Linked DNA regions of Homo sapiens: regions 2 and 3 are each linked to region 1. Evidence: fine-mapped expression QTL. A gene starts in region 1. Each other region holds a variant in brackets. All regions are shown on one strand. Distances are from middle to middle.

Region 1 (4,189 bases):
GAATGCCTTAACTGTCTGGGAATGCAGCCTAGTAGGTTTTAGCTTCATTTTACCCAGCTCCTATTTAAGATAGAGTTGCTCTGGTTCATATGCCTCTGAAAAAACCATTTAAATTTAATTATAAGAGTCTGGCCAGAGGGGGTGGCTCACGTCTGTAATCCTAGCACTTTGGGAGGCCGAGGTGGGTGGATCACCTGAGGTCGGGAGTTTGAGACCAGCCTGAACAACATGGAAGAACCCTGTCTCTACTAAAAATATAAAATTAGCCAGGCGTGGTGGCGCACACCTGTAATCCCAGCTACTCAGGAGGCTGAGGCAGGAGAATCGCTTGAACCCGGGAGGCGGAGGTTGCAGTGAGTGGAGACTGTGCCACTGCTCTCCAGCCTGGGCAACAAGAGTGAAACTCCATCTCAAAAAAAAAAAAAAAAAAAAAAAATTTAAGAGTCACAAATATGTGAAAAAGAGAATGATGTCTTTATCAATTTTCAAAAATTACTATTGCCAGTGATGAATAACAGTGTTCCTTGCACACTAATTTAGCCAAAAATATTTCTCCAAAAGTACCGCATCGTGTAGGAAATTGACTCCATCTCCATTCCTTGACTATTTTCAATCTCAAAATTAAATCTCTTGGAGAGTACTTTCTGCACACCTTTCTATTTCCTTAACCATATATATCGTCAAACCATTGAAAGCTGGACTTTATTCTCTCACTTTCATAGTCATGAAAAGAAAAAAAAAAAGTTACTGATGGGGACTCCTAAGACTTCGCATAATATAATCTTTGCATAGTCTAGGATTGTTAAAATTCCTAACAAGACTTTATAAACTCTCCTGTCTGCAACCAGTTAATGCTGGGTTGGGCCAGGGTTCCCCTCTTTCCCGTCACTTATCCATCTACGCTCATTCTTTTCATAGCCTCACCCAATATCATGACTTGAAGTAACAGTTTACAGTAATAACTCCCAAATTTATATATCCACGCTCGAACCCTCTGCCAATGTTGAATCATAGGTTGAGTATATGGCACTACGCTTTGTGGTCTTACTGACGTTTCAAACTGATCATGCTTGAAATGGGAGTACTGGGCTTCCCGGCAAGCCTGCTCCACTAGCAGCCTCCCCACCTCAGGGTACGGGAAGTCCACACGTGGCGAACGCGAAGCCTATTACATCACCCGGAAGTCCCTGCATCCTACGAAGGCTGGGCCCGGCCAAAGGAGGCCCAATAGAGGGCGGTCTGTCCTTTCCCAGCAGGCTGGGCACACTGTCAGGCGTCCTCCTTTGGGTGGCTATTTTAACTGCTCATTTATCCTTTTCTTCTATGAAAAGATCCAGAAAAGAGGCAAAGCAAGCGAGAAGTCGCGGGCCCAGCCCACAGCAGGGTAAGCACCTTTGTTCGGGGTCTGAATCGGGGCGAATATCCCCGCCTCCTGACCTCGATTTTCCTGAGCTAGAAGGGACCTTTCGACCCTCCGACTTGTGCCTATACTAAGGCGGTGGCCCTAAGACGACGCGGGGGTTCTGGTGCGCACTTACGTGCAGTCGGATGCGCTGGGTGAGTTCCCACACCCGGTAGATGTAAGGGAAAAACTGCATTACCCAGAAGGCACTGCCCCTTGCGTCGGCCGCGGACTCTGGGCCATTGACGACCCAGGACAGGAGAGTTTTCTGCGGGCCAGGGCGGCGGAGGCGGGACTTCCGCTTCTTCGTGTGACGTCATCTCCGTGGGCCGGTTTGGCCCTGAAACAGTGTGGGGCCTAGAGCGCTGGGTGGGCGCGTTCTGCGGCCTGAGCAGGGACGGGTAGTGAAGCGGTTACGCCCCTTCTTCGCGTCTTGGCGGGAGCCTGACGCCCCGCTTCTCCCCTAACGAGGTGTCCCACCGGCGCCCGCCGAGGCCTAGGCCTCCGCAGCCGCCCTCCGTCTCCTCAGCCCCGACGCTGCGCCTTGGGCCTTGTGCGCATTTTTTTCGGGGGAAAACTGAGGCTCGGAGTGCGAAAGTCAGCCGAGGTCGCCCCGCCCAGGACAGAGAAGGGCTGTGGTCGGCTGATCCGCGGCATTCCCGGGATGGCGGCGGCGTGGATGGCTCCGGCGCAGGTGAGTGGACGAGGTTTCGGCCTTGCTGCTGCTGTGCTATTTCTAGAGGCCTCGTGGGCAGGCTGGAAGCCAAGACAGCCACAGGATTTTTCTTTGTCGCCATCGTTTATTTAAGAGAAATGGCCGTGGCTTGTCATTTCCTTTATCCGCAGTCCTGCAACAGTGTTGGCCTCTGATAGGTGTTCAGTCCGTGGTTGAAGGAGTGATGCTTCCTTCTAGGGATCTCATCACACTTCCCCTAAATCCAACCTTCTCTGTTGCCTGCCAGCCCGTACCCCATCCACCTGGCCAACCACCCCTGACCTTGTCTGTTTGCATTTTTCCCTGGTCCTTTGCTCTTCAGAGCCACCAACCTGACCGTGCAGTCCTCTTCCATTTTCCAGGCTTTCTCCTTGCACTTCCTTTTACTTCGAACACTGCCCCTGTAACTTTGCAGGGCCTCCCTTTCACATCCTTTTGGCATCTGTCCAGGTGTCACCTATTTGGAGGTGCCTTTTTTGGCAATTCCGGCTAAAGTGGCACCTTACACCCTTGCCCAGAGTCTGGTATTTTTGTGTAGATAATCTGATGGTATTAAAGAAGCTTGTGGATTTGAGTTTGTCAAGGATGTAATGGGAACAAAGAAAAATAATTGCAAAGAATGATATTAACTGTCATTGAGTCCTTGCTGTGGGCTGATCGGTGAGTATTATTTAACCCTCAGTTCGTTTAACCCTGAAATTTTTTTTTTTTTTTTTTTTTTTTTTTGAGACGGAGTCTTGTTCTGTCGCCCAGGCTGGAGTGCAGTGGCGTGACCTCGGCTCACTGCAACCTCCGCCTTTTGGGTTCAAGCGATTCTCCTGCCTCAGCCTCCTGAGTAGCTGGGACTACAGGTGTGCGCCACCACGCCTGGCTAATTTTTGTATTTTTAGTAGAGACGGGGTTTTACCGTGTTGGCCACGCTGGTCTTGAACTCCTGACCTCAGGTGATCCACCCATCTGGGTCTCCCAAAGTGCTGGGATTACTCTTTAGAATTAGGTTCTGTTGTCATCATTGTTTTACACAAGAGCAATTTGAGGGTCACATACGTCCAATTACCTGCCTTACATCACTGTAGCTCTTAAGTTTCTTAAGTCAGAAACTAACAACTGGTGTGTCTAACATCATAGCCTGTGTTTTTACCCTCTTCTTTACCCGCAGTGGTTAGGGAGGCCTGGGGGTGAGACCTAAAGTAACCTTTGCAAGATGAGGCCTCCTTCTAGCCAGTGATCTTGGGCATGAGGAGTCATGGCCTTTCATACTGGTGGAACTGTGTAGACTTAAAAAATGGTATATTGGTTGTTTAAGGAGTTCTCAGGGGACCTGTGTGGCTTCCACGGTGGTTTTATATGTGGTTCCCCTTACTCCCTTACCTGCTGACATATTCTGAGAGGGCACGTTTGTATGGTTATGTTGCTGAATGTACCCTCCTACTCAGCCAGGATAGATGTAATCTCCAGATGGGCCCATATTGTCTTGGCTACAACCTGCTGTGCCCTCTATGACTCTTGTTGCTTGCTCATGGAATCTTCTGGCCTCAGGGATGCCTGCTAGTAGGACTTAGGTAGAAAAGGAAGCGATGGCTCATTGTGAATTCTCCCTGGAAGCAGGTCCAGGCCCTAACACCTGATCAGGTGTCACCACGTCAGGTGATTCTTTGGTGAGGTGGATGATGATGACTACACTTCTCTGCCCTTGTCCATGGGAGTGGCTGAAATGTATATGTGGATTTGAAATGCTTCATTCTCATTAACTGCATTAACTTTGCTAATAGAGAAATGTCAGGTTACATAATCAGACCAGAGGGCCCTGGGCTTAAATCCTGCCTCTGTTGATAAGACCTGTGACTTTGGGCTGGGCTTGGTGGCTCACACCTGTAAACCCTGCACTTTGGGAGGCTGAGGTAGGTGGACTGCTTGAGCCCAGGAGTTCAAGACCAGCCTGGGCAACATGGGAAAACCCTGTCTCTACAAAAAGTACAAAAAATTAGACCGGCATGGCATCATGTGCCTGTAGTCCCAGCTGTGCAGGAGGCTGAGGTGGGAGGATCACTAGATCACAGGAGGTCAGGGTT
Region 2 (4,189 bases), 36 kb before region 1:
GGCTGAACTTGGTGCTCACACCTGTAGCCCCAGTGCTGTGGGAGGCTGAGGTGAGAGGATCACTTGAGGCTAGGAGTTCGAGACCAGCCTGGGCAACATAGCAAGATCCCAGCTCTACCAAAAAGAAATAGTTGGGCGCAGTGGTGCGTTCCTGTAGTCCCAGCTACTTGGGCGGCTAAGGCAGAAGGATTGCTTGAGCCCAGGAGTTCAAGGTTACAGTGAACTCTGAGCATGCCATTACACTCCAGTCTGGGTAATAGAGTGAGACCCTGTCTCTGAAACAAACAAACAGAAAACACAAAAGACTAGGAGAATCTGTGGAGCTCCCTTAGCCTCAGGTCAGTGACTGTGACATGGAGGTGATTGGCGGTGGTGTTTAGTAATACTTCAGGGGCTGTGGGAGGATTAATAAAATCCCAAAGTCCAGTAAGCTCTGAATAACTCATGTCTGTTATTGGGAAAATGGGAATTCTGTATTCATCTGAAAATTGAGGCAGAGATAAATGAGGTCCCTGAGGTCACAAAACTGGCAAGTGTCAGTTTCAGGAGTTTGGATTCAAACTTGAGAAGTCTGACTTCAGAGTTTGGGACTTGTAGTTGCTTTAAAACAGAACATGAAGCTTCAGCATGAGCTGGACCAGTGAGGCTCAGGCACTGTGGTTGTCAACATTATTGCTATTATTATTGTCACTATTTCCTCATTTCTTTGAGGTCCTCGAACTCTAATTGTCTACATCTCGCCATCCACGAGTTATTGCCATTGTCTTCTGTTATTCTTTGATGGCTCCTATATAGGAGGCTTTTCTCTTTTACATTACAGTAATCTGTCCAAAGCAATGTCTGCCTTCCTCCTTCAGCCTGGTACAAAGTTAGGCCCTCAGGAGGCCCTCAGTGACTTGGGCCTTGATCTTGTTGCACCTTTTCCAGCAAAGCACATGCAATAGTCCCACAGCAAACTCTACTACCTCTATTTGACATTTCAGGTGTCTGTGACCTTTGATGATGTGGCTGTGACTTTCACCCAGGAGGAGTGGGGCCAGCTGGACCTAGCTCAGCGGACCCTGTACCAGGAGGTGATGCTGGAAAACTGTGGGCTCCTGGTATCTCTGGGTAAGGCCTTCCCCCTCCACCATGCAGGGGATCTGCCACCTCCTTCGTTCCACCCTCTGACTCCAGGCCTGATGGGTCAAGAAGTCCTCTCTTACTGGCCTTGCCTCCTTCCCACAAATTCAGTCATTTTCTACAACACTCACCTCTTCCTTTTTTTTTTTTTTTTTTTTTTGAGAGGGAGTCTTACTCTGTCACCCAGGCTGGATGCATTAGCACGAACTCGGGTCACTGCAACCTCCGCCTCCCAGGTTCAAGCGATTCTTCTGCCTCAGCCTCCCAAGTAGCTGGGAAGCTGGGATTACAGGTGCCCACCACCATGCCTGGCTAATTTTTGTATTTTCAGTAGAGATGGGGTTTCACCATGCTGGCCAGGCTGGTCTCAAACTCCTGACCTCAGGTGATCCGCCCGCCTCGGTCTCCCAAAGTGCTGGGATTACAGGTGTGAGCCACCACGCCTGGCCTACACTCACCTCTTCCTATACAGTCTCCATGCATCGCTTTGGACAAGAAATAAGAGTACTCTTTGGCTCTCAGCCAAAGGAGAGAAGCTGGTGGAAGGAAATGGGGTGTTTTGCAGACCTCAAAGGTAGGATTGCCAGCTGTATGTTATGAGGGGTTGAAGTAGGAACTGAGAACCGCCACGATGGGGTCCT[G/A]GTTTCTCTGTCTGGGTCTGCTCATGTCACTGTCTACTCTGTATGGTTTTTTCTGCCTCAGCGAGTTCAGGGGAAGAGTAACCACCCCAGGTTTTACTGTTTGTGACCCCTCCTTCCCCTCCAGATTTCTTGTCTGTTTCTCTGGCCTCTGTGGGGCGTGTTTGAGGCAGCAAATGCTGCTCCACCTCCAGCTCATACTTGCCTCCATCTCTCACCCACTGCCCAGCATAGACTGGCCTCTGTCTGCAGTTTTTTTTTTGAGTTCCAGAGCGGGATCTGCCTGGGTGGGCCTGGTTGCTCATGTATCTGCTCCACAGCCCAGTCTGTGGTGTAAGGGTTGGTGGGATGTTCACTAAGAAGGGTTGAGTCAGGCAGGCCCCAAGGAGACATTGACCTTCCGTCCCACCAGGTGTTATTCTAAACAACCTTCACGTCCTTCAATCACCTTCACATCCTCTGATTCTAAAGTCACTCTGCTGCAGCCTTGCTGGGCTTCTTGCTATTTCCCCAAGTGCCCACCCACCTCAGGCCATTGCATTTGCTGTTCTCTTTGATGAGTGTTCTCAGGGTAATTCAGCATTTCACATGGCCGCCCCTTCTCAGCACCACTTGCCTCCTCACCCAGCCCTTCCCTGACCACCGAATCTTGGGGAGGCCCCTTTCTCACCATAGCCTCCTCCCTTTACCTTTTTAATGTCTTTCTAAGCTAGTGTTTCTCAAACAGGGACGATGTTGAGCTTCAGTGGACACTGGGCAATGTGTGGAGACATTTTGGTTGTTAAAACTAAGATGATGGGCCAGGTGCGATAGCTCATGCCTGTAATCCCAGCACTTTGGGAGGCCGAGATGGGCGGATCACAAGGTCAGGAGATAGAGACCATCCTGGCTAACACGGTGCAACCCTGTCTCTACTAAAAATACAAAAAATTAGCCGGGCGTGGTGGCGGGTGCCTGTAGTCCCAGCTACTCGGGAGGCTGAGGCAGGAGAATGGCGTGAACCCAGGAGGCGGAGCTTGCAGTGAGCTGAGATTGCACCACTGCACTCCAGCCTGGGCGACAGAGCGAGACTCCATCTCAAAAAAAAAAAAAACCTAAGATGATAACATTGACAGCTAGTGGGTGGAGATGCTGCTAAACATCCTTATAATGCACAGGACAGATCCTTTCTCCTCCTCTTCCCCCGATCTCACAAACAAAGAATTACCTGGACCTAAATGTCAATTGTGCTAAGGCGAGAAGCTCTTTTTCAGAGAGTGCTTGGACAGACACTACATCAGCTGGTGCTGAGAGACACTTGAGGAAGTTGTTCTTTTATTTCTTCTCGTCTTGTCTCCTTAGCATTTGAGGAAAACTCTGGTTTAGTGCTGAGACTTAACGTCCTGCAAACTGTTGGTAATTTCCCCTTTTCTACAGAGGGAGCAGCCTTAGGCTCACAGCCCTGAACAAGCAGCATGAGCTCACAGGGACCAAAGAGCACTGTTTGTTTGTCTTGAGACAGAGTCTCGCTGTTGCCTCGGCTGGAGTGCAGTGGTTTGATCTTGGCTCACTGCAACCTGTGCCTCCTGGATTCAAGCATTTCTCATGCCTCAGCCTCCTGAGTAGCTAGGATTACAGGCAGGTGCCACCACGCCCAGCTAATTTTTGTATACGTTGTTTTGATTTATTGCTACATTTTCATGGTTACCTGCCATCAAGACAAGTGACTCTGGATTTTCCATTTACCAGAGTGATAAGGATTCCATTTTTGAAGAAATCTAAGAAAAATAAAAAGTGGATCACTTTTAAGAAAAGCAGCCCGGGCATGGTGGCTCATGCCTGCAATCTCAGCACTTTGGGAGGGCAAGGCAGGCAGATCACGAGGTCAGTTGATAGCGACCATCCTGGCCAACATGGTGAAACCCCGTCTGTACTAAATATACAAAAATTAGCTGGGTGTGGTAGCGCATGCCTGTAATCCCAGCTACTCAGGAGGTGGAGGCAGGAGAATCACTTGAACCAGGGAGTTGGAGGTTGCAGTGAGCTGAGATCGCGCTACTGCACTCCAGCCTGATGACAGAGCGAGACTTCGTCTCAAAAAAAAAAAAAAAAAAAGAAAAGCAGTTAACAGTCCAGATCCCCAGAGCACTGATTGGGTGTCTCAGGCCTGTTCCAGGCAGTGTTCATGCTCCATTTATTCTCACAGGATCCCTGTCCTCAGCAAAGTAAGGAAAATTTAGCCACTCCTGTGAGTCCCTCATCCAGTTTAACTTACTCAGCACAGATGAAACACCTTCATTTTATGAAGCTATCACTGAATGTTTTTGTGTAGAAAAAATTCTTCTCTTGTGAACTTTTTTTTTTTTTTTTGAGATGGAGTTTCACTCTTGTCTCCCAGACTGGAGTGCAGTGGTGCAAGATCATAGCTCACTGCGATCCTCACACCTTAC
Region 3 (4,189 bases), 35 kb after region 1:
TGAATCCATAAATTGCTTTGGGCAGTATGGCTATTTTAACAATATTGATTCTTTTTATCCATGAGCATGAAATGTTTTTCCATTTGTTTTGGTCATCTCTGATTTCTTTCAGCAGTGTTTTGTAATTCTTGTTGTAGAGATCTTTCCACTCCCTGGCTAGCTTTATTACTAGGTATTTTATTCTTTTTCTTGACTATTGTGTATGAGATTGCATTCTTGATTTGGCTCTCAGACTGGACATTCACTGTATATTATTGGTACATAGAAATGCTGATTTTTGTACATTGATTTTATATACTAAAGCTTTACTGAAGTTATCAGTTCTAGGAGCTTTTGTGCAGAGACTATGGGGTTTTCTAAGTATAGAATCATATCCTCTGCAAAGAGAGATAGTTTGACTTCCTCTCTTCCTATTTGGATGCCTTTTATTTCATTCTCTTGCCTGATTACTCTGGCTAGGACTTCCAGTACTATCTTGAATAGGAGTGGTAAGAGTGAGTATCGTTGTCTTGTTCTGATTCCCAAGGAAAATGCTTCCGGCTTTTGCCTGTCTGGTATAATTTTAGCTGTGAGTTTGTTATAGATGGCTTTTGTTGTTGCTTTGAGACAAGGTTCTTGCTCTGTCACCCAGGCTGGAGTGCAGTGATGCAATCACAGCTCACTGCAACCTCTGCCCTCCTGAGCTCAAGTGCCTCCCACCTCAGCCTCTCGAGCAGCTGAGACTACAGGTGTATGCCATCACACCTGGCTAATTTTTGTGTATTTTGTAGGAACGGGGTTTTGCTATGTTGCCCAGGCTTGTCTCCACCTCCCAAAGTGCTGGGATTATAGGTGTGAGACACTGCACCTGGCCCATAGATGGCTCTTATTATTTTGAGGTCTGTTTCTTCAATGCCTAGTTTGTGGAGGGTTGGAAGGGTTGTTAAATTTTATTGAAAGCCTTCTGTGCATCTATTGAGATAACCATGTGGTTTTTGTTTTTTTGTTCTGTTTATGTGATGAATCACATTTCTTAATTTGCATATGTTGAGCCAACTTTGCATGCCAGATATAAAGCCTGCTTGAGTGTGGTGATCGTGGTGGATTAGCTTTCTGATATGCTGTTGGATTCAGTTAACTAGTATTTTGTTGAGAATTTTGCATTTATGTTTATCAGGGATATTGGCCTAACATTTTCTTTTTTCATTTTGCCTCTGCCAGGTTTTGGTATCAGGATGACTCTGGCCTCACAGAATAAGTTAGGGAGTAGTCCCGCCTCCTTGATTTTTTGGGAATAATTTCAGTAGGATTAGTACCACGTCTTTTTACATCTGGTAGAATACAACTGTGAATCCACCTGGTCCAGGGCTTTTTCTGGTTGGTAGCTTTTTAATTACTGATTCAATTTCAGAACTCATTACTGGTCTGTTCAGGATTTCAATTTCTTCCTGGTTCAATCTTAGGAGGTTGTATGTTTCAAGGAATGTATCCATTTCTTCTAGGTTTTTTAGTTTGTGTGCTAAGTTTTTAGTTCTTAATAGTCTCTGAGAGAATTTTGTACTTCTGTGGGGTAGGTGGTAATGTCACCTTTAACATTTCTGATTGCGTTTTTTTGCATCTTCTTTTTTCCTTATTAATCTAGCTAGTGGGCTACCAGTGTTGTTTATTCTTTTGAAAAACCAACTTACGGTTTTATGATCTTTGTGTAGATTTTCACATCTCAGTTTTATTCAGTTCAACTCTGATATTGGTTATTTTTCTCTGCTGCTTTTCTTTCTTTTGGGGTTGTTTTTTTTTTCTTTTAGTTCCTCTAGGTGTGATGTTATTTTGTTAACTTGAGATTTATCTAACTTCTTGGTGTAGGCATTTTGCACTATAAACTTTCAACACTGCTTTAGCTGTGTCCCAAAGATTCTGGTATGTTGTATCTCTGTTTTAATTAGTTTCAAGGAATTTTTTTATTTGTCTTGATTTCATTCTTTACCTAAAACACATTCAGGAGAAGATTGTTTAATTTCCATGTAATTGTATGGTTTTGAGAGTTCTTCTAGGTATTGATTTCTGTTTCTACTGTGCTATGGTCTGAGAGTGTGGTTGGTATGACTTTTTTTTTAATTGTTGAGTATTGCTTTATGGCCAAGTATGTGATTGATCTTAGAATATGTGACATGTGCAGATGAAAAGAATGTATGTTCTGTGGTTGTTGGGTAGAGTATTCTGTAGATTTCTGTAAGGTCTATTTGGTCAAATGTCCAGTTTAGCTTCCAAATACCTTTGTTAGCTTTCTGCCTTGGTGATGCATCTAACACTGTCAGTGGGGTGTTGAAGTCTCCTGCTATTATTGTCTGGTTGTCTAAGTCTTGTTGTAGGTCTCTAAGAACTTGTTTCATGAATATGGGTGCTCCAGTGTTTGGTGCATATATATTTGGGATAGTTAAGTCTTGTTGAATTGAATCCTTTATCACT[A/G]TGTGATGCCCTTCTTTGCCTTTTTTGATCATTGTTGGTCTAAAGTCTGTTTCGTGTGAAATAGCAATCCCTGCTCTTTTTTTTCCCATTTGCTTGATCTTTCTCCATCCTTTTACTTTGTGCCTATGGGTGTCATTGCATGTGAGATGTGTCTAATGAAGAGAATACACAGTTGGGTTTCATTTCTTTTTCCAACTTGCCACCTTGTGCCTTCTAAGTGGGGCATTTAGCCTATTTACATTCAAGGTCAATATTGATAAGTGAGGATTTGATCCTGTCATTATGTTGTTAGCTGGTTGTTATGTGGACTTTATTGTATAGTTGGTTTGTAGTATCAACAGGATATGTGCTCAAGTTGTTTCTGTGGTGGCAGATACTCATCTTTTGCTTCTAGGTTTAGCACTGTTTTAAGGACTTCTTGTAAGGCAGGTCTGGTAGTAATGAATTCCCTTAACATTTGTTTGTCTGAAAAAGATTTTATTTATCCTTCACTTAATGAAGTTTAGTTTGGTTGGATATTAAATTCTTGGTTCAAATTTCTTTCATTTAAAAATGCTGAATATAGGCCCCCAGTCTCTTCCAGCTTGTAAACTTTCTGAAAGGTCCACGGTTAGCCTGATCGGGTTCCTTTTGTGGGTAACCTGCCACTTCTCTCTAGCTGCCTTTAATGTTTTTCTTTTGTATTGACCTTGGAGAATCTGATGACTATGTGTCTTAGGGATGGTCATCTTGTATAATATCATCTCACAGGGGTTCTCTGAATGTCCTGAATTTGCATGTCAACCTCTCTAGTGTGGTTGGGGAAATGTTCATGGACAGTATCATCAAATATGTTTTCCAAGTTCCTTGTTGTCTCTCCATCTCTTTCTGGAATGCCAATGTGTTATAGGCTTGGTCTTTTTACATATCCCATATTTCTTGTAGGTTTTATTCATTTTTTAAAATTCTTTTTTCTTTATTTTTTTCTGCTGTATTGGTTCAAAGGAGTCGTGTTTGAGCTCTGAGATTATTTTCTTTTTTTTTGTGGGATAGCAAACACTTATTTGAAGAACTTTTAGGATAAAATTTAGTTTACCTCTGATAAAGCTGAAGAAAAATGATTGCAGTTTTTATGCATTAAATGATAAACATTGCCTTTGTATTCTTTTCCCAGTTCTTCTACAATTTTTTCTATATCATCTTCTAGGAAGTCCGTGCTCCCTAAAACAACTTCTTTAAATTTAAATGGTTCTCCTAGTTCAGAAGCATTTCCTGGGGAAATTTCAAATATTCCAGAAAAGGGGTAAGGATGGCCACCATAAGCAAATTCTCTGCCATAGACTTCAATTTCTGAATGAAAAACTCCAATTCCAATGGATGAGGTATATTCCTTCATCCAATACATGTCACACACGTTGAGCACCACTAACTGGTTAGCCCCCATCCTCCTCCCCGCGGCCGCCGCCTAGTCCTCAAGCCGCTCGGTCTCCGCGGGGCCGGAGGCCGCTCCCACCCCCGCGGGCGCTTCAAGGGGCCTGAGCCGGGCACTAAGCGTACAGCCCTGCCCGTGGCAGCCGGGGCAGAAGCATCGGGCAGCCAAGCCACTCCCGGGCGCCAACGACAGGAGCCTCTGTGCGGACAGGGCCGGACAGCTGGCGGCCCGCTCCGGATGAGGCACCTCCCCTAGGCGGCAGACACATGGGGAAAAACTGAGCTCTGAGACTATTTTCTAAGCTTGGTCTATTCTGTTGTTAGCGCTTCCAGT

Evidence for each region. PIP is the estimated chance that this variant, and not a neighbour inherited with it, causes the effect.
Region 2: its variant is the best candidate, but not a certain one, in a credible set for the expression of ZNF460-AS1 in blood mononuclear cells (TOPMed, PIP 0.65).
Region 3: its variant is the best candidate, but not a certain one, in a credible set for the expression of ZNF460-AS1 in fibroblasts (GTEx, PIP 0.68).

The regions. Positions count from the first base shown.
Region 1 is chr19:57,278,741-57,282,929 of GRCh38, forward strand. It overlaps ZNF460-AS1 (ZNF460 antisense RNA 1), which reads right to left and starts at 1,594. Exons shown (of 3, transcript NR_136529.1): 1 at 1,539-1,594. It overlaps ZNF460 (zinc finger protein 460), which reads left to right and starts at 1,745. Exons shown (of 3, transcript NM_006635.4): 1 at 1,745-2,096. The coding sequence starts at 2,067. RefSeq lists enhancers at 941-1,880, 995-1,586, 1,004-2,203, 1,587-2,178, 3,107-3,226 and a silencer at 2,601-2,650.
Region 2 is chr19:57,242,940-57,247,128 of GRCh38, forward strand. ZNF805 (zinc finger protein 805) reads left to right here. Exons shown (of 4, transcript NM_001023563.4): 2 at 984-1,110. Among named protein-coding and RNA genes, the nearest start is that of ZNF805, 4.4 kb to the left of the region's middle. RefSeq lists an enhancer at 3,102-3,396. The variant G/A (reference allele first, on the strand shown) is at 1,764.
Region 3 is chr19:57,313,695-57,317,883 of GRCh38, forward strand. It overlaps the pseudogene LOC100288211. Among named protein-coding and RNA genes, the nearest start is that of ZNF543, 4.7 kb to the right of the region's middle. RefSeq lists a silencer at 3,787-4,081. The variant A/G (reference allele first, on the strand shown) is at 2,446.